2 separate regions of the Homo sapiens genome follow, and region 2 is linked to region 1. A link means that fine-mapping ties the variant in region 1 to the expression of a gene that starts in the linked region. Tissue or cell type: whole blood. Region 1 holds a variant in brackets; the other region holds the start of a gene. All regions are shown on one strand. Distances are between the middles of the regions.

Evidence for each region. PIP is the estimated chance that this variant, and not a neighbour inherited with it, causes the effect.
Region 2: it holds the start of S1PR4, and the variant in region 1 is fine-mapped to the expression of S1PR4 in whole blood (INTERVAL, PIP above 0.99).

What each region holds. Positions count from the first base shown.
Region 1 is chr19:3,146,724-3,152,552 of GRCh38, forward strand. GNA15 (G protein subunit alpha 15) reads left to right here. Exons shown (of 7, transcript NM_002068.4): 2 at 1,868-2,052; 3 at 3,408-3,562; 4 at 4,984-5,112. GNA15-DT (GNA15 divergent transcript) reads right to left here. Exons shown (of 4, transcript NR_110670.1): 2 at 1,893-3,067. Among named protein-coding and RNA genes, the nearest start is that of GNA15-DT, 5.5 kb to the right of the region's middle. The variant G/A (reference allele first, on the strand shown) is at 2,148.
Region 2 is chr19:3,176,656-3,180,655 of GRCh38, forward strand. S1PR4 (sphingosine-1-phosphate receptor 4) reads left to right here and starts at 2,114. Exons shown (of 1, transcript NM_003775.4): 1 at 2,114-3,677. The coding sequence starts at 2,138. The coding sequence ends at 3,292. RefSeq lists enhancers at 96-978, 2,562-3,211, 3,252-3,431, 3,472-3,701 and a silencer at 1,782-2,331.

The DNA.
Region 1 (5,829 bases):
CCCCCAGACCACCCCCCACAGCCTGTCCTCCCTGCAGCAGCCACCAGAGGGCGCCTGTGAGCACCTGAGTCAGGGCCAGTCCCTCCTCTGCCCACAGCCCTCCATGGCTCCCAAGTCCCTCAGGGTCAAAGCCCAAGACTTCCCTGCAACCCACAAGGCCCAGCACAACCCACCCTCCCCTCCTTCCTCTCTCCCCCTCCTCACTCTGCTCCAGCCACAAGGGCCTCCTCACTGTTCCTCCAATATGCCAGGTGCGGCCCTGCCCCAGGGCCTTTGCACAAGCTGTTACTGTCACCTGGTGTGCCCTCTAAGATTTTGACAGCCACCTTCCGGCCTTCACAAATCACTTTCACTGAGAGGCCTTCCTTGACTGCTCACAAATCACTTCCACTGAGAGGCCTTCCTTGACTGCGTGGCTATCGTAGTCACCTAATTACTCCTTGCCCTATTTATCCTATGTTATTTCTTTCGTAAAAGTTTCTCTACCTGAAATTATTGTAGCAAATAATAATACATATTAGTATTGTTATGATAAATAATAAAAATAGGCCAGGCACGGTGGCTCACGCCTGTAATCCCAGCACTTTGGGAGGCCGAGGCAGACGGATCACTTGAGCCCAGGAATTTGAGACCAGCCTGGCTAACATGGTGAAACCACAGCTGTACTAAAAATACAAAAATTAACTAGGCGTGGTGGCACGCGCCTGTTACCCCAGCTACTTGGGAGGCTGAGGGAGGAGAATCACTTGAACCTGGGAGCCAGAGGTTGCAGTGAGCTGAGATTGCGCCATTGCACTCCAGCCTGGGCAACAGAGAATCTGTCTAAAAAAAAAGAAAAAAAGAAAAAAGAAAAAAACCCATAAGAACCATAACCATAAAAAGTATTAAAAACACAAAAACTGGCCAGGCGCGGTGGCTCACGCTTGTAATCCCAGCACTTTGGGAGGCCGAGGCGGGTGGATCACGAGGTCAAGACCACGGTGAAACCCCGTCTCTACTAAAAATACAAAAAAATTAGCCGGGCGTGGTGGCGGGTGCCTGTAGTCCCAGCTACTCAGAGAGGCTGAGGCAGGAGAATGGTGTGAACCCGGGAGACGGAGCTTGCAGTGAGCCGAGGTCGCGCCACTGCACTCCAGCCTGGGTGACAGAGCAAGACTCCATCTCAAAAAAAAAAAAAAAAAGAAGAGAAAAAGAAAACAAAAACAAACAAAAACTTTCTGGCCACACAAAGATAACTGGATCTGGCCCTCAAGCAGCCGGAGTTTGCGACCCTTACCGTGAGCATTTTATAATCAATTCATTTGGCCCTCAGTTTGATGCAGCAGGCATGGTCTGTTGAGGTCCATGTTTTGTTTTTTTTGTTTGTTTGTTTTGTTTTTTTTTGAGACAGAATCTCGCCCTGTCGCTCAGGCTGGAGTACAATGGTGTGATCTCAGCTCACTGCAATCTCTGCCTCCCAGGTTCAAGCGATTCTCCTGCCTCAGCCTCCTGCGTAGCTGGGATTACAGGCGTGAGCCACCACACCCGGCTAATTTTGTATTTTTAATAGAGATGGGGTTTCGCCATGTTTACCAGGTTGGTCTCTAACTCCTGACCTCAGGTGATCCGCCTGCCTCAGCCTCCCAAAGTGCTGGGACTACAGGCATGAGCCACCGTGCCCAGCCTGAGGTTCATGTTTTACAGATGGGGAAACCAAGGCACAGAGCGGCAAAGCCGCTAGCCTAGGGTCACTGAGTGAGGTCCCGGCTGCACCGGGGTTTGAACCCAGGAGGCCTGGCGTGGAGTTGGGGGTGTCTGACGTGGGGTTGGGGGTGTCGGGGGTGGGAGTCCCGTGGAGGGCTGAGCGGTTCTGCTGCTCCATCCCCAGGCCCAGGCGAGAGCGGGAAGAGCACCTTCATCAAGCAGATGCGGATCATCCACGGCGCCGGCTACTCGGAGGAGGAGCGCAAGGGCTTCCGGCCCCTGGTCTACCAGAACATCTTCGTGTCCATGCGGGCCATGATCGAGGCCATGGAGCGGCTGCAGATTCCATTCAGCAGGCCCGAGAGCAAGGTGAGCCGCCAGGGCAGGCAGGGGCCCAGGGCAGGCAGGGGCCCAGGGCAGGGTTCCCCAGACCCCGGAGCAGGGCCAAGTTCCCCAGACTTCAG[G/A]GCAGGGCAGGGCAGGGCAGGGCAGGCAGGGAAGGGTCCCCAGACCCTGGGGCAAGGCCATGTCCTCCAGACATATGTGCATACATACAAGTGCACACACAAGTATACACGCATAAATGCACACACGCACATGTATGCACACGCACAGACATGCACACAAGGACACACACGTACATGCTCACAAAGATACACACGCATGCCCACATGCACACACCCACACACATACACAAATGAATGCACACACGTGCACACGTGTGCACACACACAAATGCACACAAGGATCCATGCAGATGCCCCCACACAGATGCACACAAATAAGTGCACACACAAATGTACACACTCAAACACGCCCATGCACGTGTACACACTCACAAACACACACAAGAATGCATGCAAATTCCCACATGCACACACACACATGCACATACACAAACACACACAAGCATGCATGCAAATTCCCACATGCACACACACACATGCACATACACAAACACACAAGGATACACACATGCCTGCATGCAATCCCCCCATGCACATGCACGCACATGTGTGCACACATACAAATGCACACACAAGCACACCTATGCACGCACCCACAAATGCAGCCAAGGATACATGCGCGTGCCCCACACACAAATATGCAAACAAATCACACACCCAGACACACCCATGTACATGTGTACATCTATACACACACACACACGAGCACGCTTGTACATGAACAAACACAGAGAAATGCACACACAACACTCAGAGTCCATCACAAAGGTCTGAGCAACGCGAGTGCCTGGGGGGAGCTAGGGCTGTTTGGGGAAAAGAAGGGGAAACCCAGAGTCTGGGGGGCAGCTCAGGGTTCACGCGCCTCTGGGGGACTTCTGAGGGGCAGATTGCTTCAGTGCTCTGTGTCTTAGTCGCTTCATCTGTGGAAGGGGGGACTGTGAGTGCCGTGCTTCCTGGGAGCCAGCTAGTGTAAAGAGCGGGGCTGGGTGCCATGCTCCCCCTGAGCCTGGGCTCGCCCGAGCACATGTGCCCTCTGCAGCCCCTCATGTGGTGGTCTGTGCTTTTCCCTCTGGGGATCCATGCAAGAACAGACGGAGGACAAATCAGAAGTGTGCGGGGGGGTCGGGAGCTCTGGGGAAGAAGGAGAGCAGTGGGAAGAGAGCGTGTTTCAGGGAGGGACGTGGGGGCTTGCAGAGATGCCTGCGGAGGGCAGCCCCACTCAGAAAGGCTACCCTAACTGCCCCCGTCCTCCCTCCCCAGCACCACGCTAGCCTGGTCATGAGCCAGGACCCCTATAAAGTGACCACGTTTGAGAAGCGCTACGCTGCGGCCATGCAGTGGCTGTGGAGGGATGCCGGCATCCGGGCCTGCTATGAGCGTCGGCGGGAATTCCACCTGCTCGATTCAGCCGTGTAGTGAGTCTGGGGTCTGCGGGGGATGGGCGCGTGGGGAGGGGCTGAGGGCAGGGGCCAGGCTGGCTGGCTTCCTGCAGCAGGAGATATTGTGGGCGCAGATGGGCTGTGAGGTGGTCCTGCTCCAGGATGAGGTCCTTCCAGGGGGACCCTAATTCCCGGGGGACCCTGTTCTGGGGGTGACCCTTTTCCTGGGGGAACTCCCTTCATGGAATGACCTTGTTCCTGGGTGGACCCTGTTCCTTGGGACTCTGTTCTGGCGGTGATCTTGTTCTTGGAATGACCCTATTCATAGGGGGACTCTGTTCTAGGAGTGACTCTGTTCCTGAGGGAATCCAGTTCCTTGGGGAGACCCTGTTCTAGGGGGTATCCTGTTCCTAGAGTGACCCTGTGCCTGGGGTTCCCTGTTCCTGCGAGGACCCTGTTTCAGGGGTGACCCTGTTCCTGGGGGAACCGTATTCCTAGAGTGACCCTGTTCTTGGGGGGAACCCTGATCCTGGGGGGAACCCTATTCCTGGAGAACCCTGTTCCTGGAGTGACCCTGGGCCTTGGAGTCCCTGTTCCCGTGAGGACCCTGTTTCAGGGGTGACCCTGTTTCTGGGGGGACCCTGTTCCCGGGGGTGACTCTGTTCCCAGGGAGACCCTATTTCCTGGGGGATCCTGTTCTGGCGTTGATCCTTTTCCTGGAGTGACCCTGTTCCTAGGGGTGATCCTGTTCCTGGGGGGACTGTATTCCTAGAGTGACCCTGTTCTTGGAGGGACCCTGTTCCTGGGGGGACCTTGTTCCTGGGGGAACCCTATTCCTAGAGAACCCTGTTCCCGGAGTGACCCTATTCCTGGCGGGAACCTGTTCCTAGAGTGCCCCTGTTTTAGAAGGGACCCTTTTCTGGGAGTGACCCTGTTTCTGAGGGGACCCTATTCTGGGGGGACCCTGTTCCTGGAGTGACCCTGTTCCTGGGGGGACCCTGTTCCTAAAGTGACCCTGTTTTAGGGGGGACTCTGTTCCAGGGGAGACCCTGTTCTGGGGGTGACCCTATTCCTAGTGGGATCCTGTACTAGGTGTGATGGTGGATGTCCAAGGTGGCTTGATGTCTGGGAAGACTGTTCCCAGGCTACCAGCATTCTTGGGGTAGCGCCACCCCTGCCATAGCAGCTCTCCCGGGGGACACCACTCCTCGATGAGGCCATTCCTCATGTCACGCCATCCCTCGGGTCACCCTGCTCTGCGTGTGAAGCTGCTTTTCCTTGGGGCTCCATTGCCTCAGGTGGGGGACGCTCCTGGGCCATCTGCCAACTCCAGGGACCCCACCTCCACCCAGGGAGCTCTCCTCCCCCAGCAGGGTCCTTGCTGGGCCTTTCGTAGGGCCTGGGAAGCAAAGGGAGGCTGGCTGCAAGGCTGGGCCTCAGGACTCCTTGCTCTGCAGCTACCTGTCCCACCTGGAGCGCATCACCGAGGAGGGCTACGTCCCCACAGCTCAGGACGTGCTCCGCAGCCGCATGCCCACCACTGGCATCAACGAGTACTGCTTCTCCGTGCAGAAAACCAACCTGCGGTGAGCGCTCCACCTAGGCCCAGCCTAGGGGGCAGGGAAGGCTTCCTGTAGGAAGGGCAAAGGAGCTGGGGCCCTGAGGGATGAGTAGGAGTTTCTTAGGCCCAGCCTTCAAGGAGCTGCCAAGCTAGGGGAAGCAAAGCTCCATGTAGACACCTCCAGGCCCCCAGGTAGTCAGGACTGGGACCTGTAGGAGCCCAGGCTGAGGCATCAGAGATCCAGGAGGGAATATCTTCTTGGAGGAGGGAATATTAATGGGGTTTTGAAAGACGAATAGGAGTTCAGTAGTCCTAACCCTGAAGGGGCTGCTGGGGAGGAGGAAATAGAGACTATACAGTCAGGACCAGGTCTGGGGAGGCCTGGTCTGGGGAGCTCAGAGGTGATCCCTGTAGTCATCAACACTGGGGGATGGACTAGAGTGTGAGGCTGGAAGTCAGGAAACTCAGAAAAAGGAGGAGCCAGGACAGCGGGCGTGGGGATGGAAAGGAAGGGATGGGCAAGAGTTGTTTCTGATGTGGAATGGGCAGGACTGGATGAGTGTGGGAATTAGAACAGGAAGTCAAAAATGACACCTGAGTTTTTTGTCAAGGTGATGGGGGTAGACAGTGGAGCCGGTGGGCTAGAGGATGAAAAGGTGGTGATGGAGTCCTTTGGGACAGGTTGAGTCTGAGGGGCCTAGGGGGACTCCACCTTAGCTGGCAGACAGAGGTGGGAATGGCC
Region 2 (4,000 bases), 29 kb after region 1:
TTCTGGGGCCTGCATTATTTCCCAAATCACCCCACACCCCAAGGCCTTCTGGATGGGGACGAGTGGGGGGTCACAGACACTGGGGGAGCTGGAGAGCAGAGACCTCACACTCCATCCGTGACAGATGATGTCCAAGCCCCTACATGCCCCAGACCCCAGGGCAAGGCTGAGCCTCCCTCCTCAGACCCCAGGGCAAGGCTGAGCATCCCCACTCAGACCTCAGGGTAGGGCCTCGCCTCCTCCCTTGGACCCCAGGACAGGGCCTCACCTCTCCCCTCAGACCCCAAGGCAGGGCCTCGCCTCCCCCCTCAGACTCAGGACAGGGCCATGCCTCCCCACTCAGACCCCAAGGCAAGGCCAACCCTCACCCCTAGACCCCAGGCAGGTTCAAGCCTCCCCGCTCAAACCTCAGGGCAGGGCATACCTCCCTCCTCAGACCCAGGGCAGGGTGTGTCTCCCCTCTCAGACCACAGCACAGGGCCTCGCATCCCTCCTCAGACCCCAGGACAAGGCTGAGCCTCTCCGCTCAGACCCCAGGGTAAGGTCATGCCTCCCCTCTCAGAACCTAGGGCAAGGCCAACCCTCCCCCCTCAGACCCCAGGCAGGTCCAAGCTTCCCCCTCAGACGCCAGGGCAGAGCCTGCCTCCCTCCTCAGACGCCAGAGCAGGGTGTGTCTCCCACTTAGACCCACAGCCACCTCACCTCAGGCTGAGTCACCGTGAGCCGTTGTCAGCAGGGCCATGGGGATGGGGTGAGCAAGTCCCTACTTTTCCTATGCACCTCAATCCCAGTGGGGGGCTGCCCCAGGGGGCCAGCAGCTCTGCTCCCAGCAGGGTGAGCTCAGGGGCAGGAGAGGCAACCATGAATCCCAAAATGGGCGCCTGGCCCCGAGACCCTACCAGCTTGTCCCTGGGGGTCTCTCTCCCTGGACCTGTGTGTCCTCCCATGGGCAGAAAGTTGGCCTCAGGCCGCCTTTGTGGGCCTCAGTTTTCCCTTCTGTAACGCATCAGGCTCTCTGGGCCTCAGTTTCCCCTTCTGCAACGCATCGGGCTCTCTGGGCCTCAGTTTCCCCTTCTGCAACGCATCGGGCTCTCTGGGCCTCAGTTTCCCCTTCTGCAACGCATCGGGCTCTCTGGGCCTCAGTTTCCCCTTCTGCAACGCCTCGGGCTCTCTGGGCCTCAGTTTCCCCTTCTGCAACGCATCGGGCTCTCTGGGCCTCAGTTTCCCCTTCTGCAACGCCTCGGGCTCTCTGGGCCTCAGTTTCCCCTTCTGCAACGCCTCGGGCTCTCTGGGCCTCAGTTTCCCCTTCTGCAACGCATCGGGCTCTCTGGGCCTCAGTTTCCCCTTCTGCAACGCATCGGGCTCTCTGGGCCTCAGTTTCCCCTTCTGCAACGCATCGGGCTCTCTGGGCCTCAGTTTCCCCTTCTGCAACGCCTCGGGCTCTCTGGGCCTCAGTTTCCCCTTCTGCAACGCCTCGGGCTCTCTGGGCCTCAGTTTCCCCTTCTGCAACGCATCGGGCTCTCTGGGCCTCAGTTTCCCCTTCTGCAACGCATCGGGCTCTCTGGGCCTCAGTTTCCCCTTCTGCAACGCACCGGGCTCTCTGGGCCTCAGTTTCCTCTTCTGTAACGCATCAGGCCCTGTTTCGGGGATCAAGTCGGATGAGTCAGTGCTCAAGGGCATGCAGGCACTTGACATTTATTAGGCACCTGCTGTGTGCTGAGCGCCGGTGGAGCATGTGGGGAGACCTCAGTGGAGCCGACGGGTGCTTCGGGGGTGATCAGGGCTGGTGGGGAGGAGTCGTCCGGCTGGAAAGGGGTGGCCCATCCCGAGTGGGGACTCATTTCCCCTCCGTGACTGACGGCTCCGGGGCTCCCTGCGGGTCTCCGGCTTTCGAGGACAGGAAGAAGGCAGCCAGGGCAGGGGTGGGGGTCCTCACAGCCAGGGCAGCCCCAGCGCGTTGGCTCCAGGAGCCCGGGTGGGGGCCGACCGTTGGGGTGCCCCTCCCTGTCCTCGGCCTTACCTCCACCCTGGAGGGCACCTTGAACATAACAGGAAATTTCAAATAACAGGAAACCAAGACCAGCAAGGCGGGTGGCTCCACCCTGCGTCGGGCCTCAGTCAGCCCCCGGGGGAGGCCATGAACGCCACGGGGACCCCGGTGGCCCCCGAGTCCTGCCAACAGCTGGCGGCCGGCGGGCACAGCCGGCTCATTGTTCTGCACTACAACCACTCGGGCCGGCTGGCCGGGCGCGGGGGGCCGGAGGATGGCGGCCTGGGGGCCCTGCGGGGGCTGTCGGTGGCCGCCAGCTGCCTGGTGGTGCTGGAGAACTTGCTGGTGCTGGCGGCCATCACCAGCCACATGCGGTCGCGACGCTGGGTCTACTATTGCCTGGTGAACATCACGCTGAGTGACCTGCTCACGGGCGCGGCCTACCTGGCCAACGTGCTGCTGTCGGGGGCCCGCACCTTCCGTCTGGCGCCCGCCCAGTGGTTCCTACGGGAGGGCCTGCTCTTCACCGCCCTGGCCGCCTCCACCTTCAGCCTGCTCTTCACTGCAGGGGAGCGCTTTGCCACCATGGTGCGGCCGGTGGCCGAGAGCGGGGCCACCAAGACCAGCCGCGTCTACGGCTTCATCGGCCTCTGCTGGCTGCTGGCCGCGCTGCTGGGGATGCTGCCTTTGCTGGGCTGGAACTGCCTGTGCGCCTTTGACCGCTGCTCCAGCCTTCTGCCCCTCTACTCCAAGCGCTACATCCTCTTCTGCCTGGTGATCTTCGCCGGCGTCCTGGCCACCATCATGGGCCTCTATGGGGCCATCTTCCGCCTGGTGCAGGCCAGCGGGCAGAAGGCCCCACGCCCAGCGGCCCGCCGCAAGGCCCGCCGCCTGCTGAAGACGGTGCTGATGATCCTGCTGGCCTTCCTGGTGTGCTGGGGCCCACTCTTCGGGCTGCTGCTGGCCGACGTCTTTGGCTCCAACCTCTGGGCCCAGGAGTACCTGCGGGGCATGGACTGGATCCTGGCCCTGGCCGTCCTCAACTCGGCGGTCAACCCCATCATCTACTCCTTCCGCAGCAGGGAGGTGTGCAGAGCCGTGCTCAGCTTCCTCTGCTGCGGGTGTCTCCGGCTGGGCATGCGAGGGCCCGGGGACTGCCTGGCCCGGGCCGTCGAGGCTCACTCCGGAGCTTCCACCACCGACAGCTCTCTGAGGCCAAGGGACAGCTTTCGCGGCTCCCGCTCGCTCAGCTTTCGGATGCGGGAGCCCCTGTCCAGCATCTCCAGCGTGCGGAGCATCTGAAGTTGCAGTCTTGCGTGTGGATGGTGCAGCCACCGGGTGCGTGCCAGGCAGGCCCTCCTGGGGTACAGGAAGCTGTGTGCACGCAGCCTCGCCTGTATGGGGAGCAGGGAACGGGACAGGCCCCCATGGTCTTCCCGGTGGCCTCTCGGGGCTTCTGACGCCAAATGGGCTTCCCATGGTCACCCTGGACAAGGAGGCAACCACCCCACCTCCCCGTAGGAGCAGAGAGCACCCTGGTGTGGGGGCGAGTGGGTTCCCCACAACCCCGCTTCTGTGTGATTCTGGGGAAGTCCCGGCCCCTCTCTGGGCCTCAGTAGGGCTCCCAGGCTGCAAGGGGTGGACTGTGGGATGCATGCCCTGGCAACATTGAAGTTCGATCATGGTACGTGATGTTGCGGCCTCTTATTCCCTGGTGCGTGCATGCGTGGGGGCCGTGGCTCAGGGGGGCTGTGGATCTAGGGGCAGCCGGGTGTGTCTTTGCTAGAGAGGGCCACGGGCCAGTGCCCTGTGAGGGTGGAGTGTGTGTGTGTGTGTGTGTGTGTGTGTGTGTGTGTGGACAACCTCTGGGCGTTGCGGGAAGTGGGGGTGACAATGACAGTTAATGCCGCCTCTTCTTGTTCACTTCCCCTTTAGAAATGGCAGGGCCCATGCCCCATCTCTGGCCTCTGCATCTTTTGGGGACCCACTCTCTGGGGCTGGCAGAGGCAC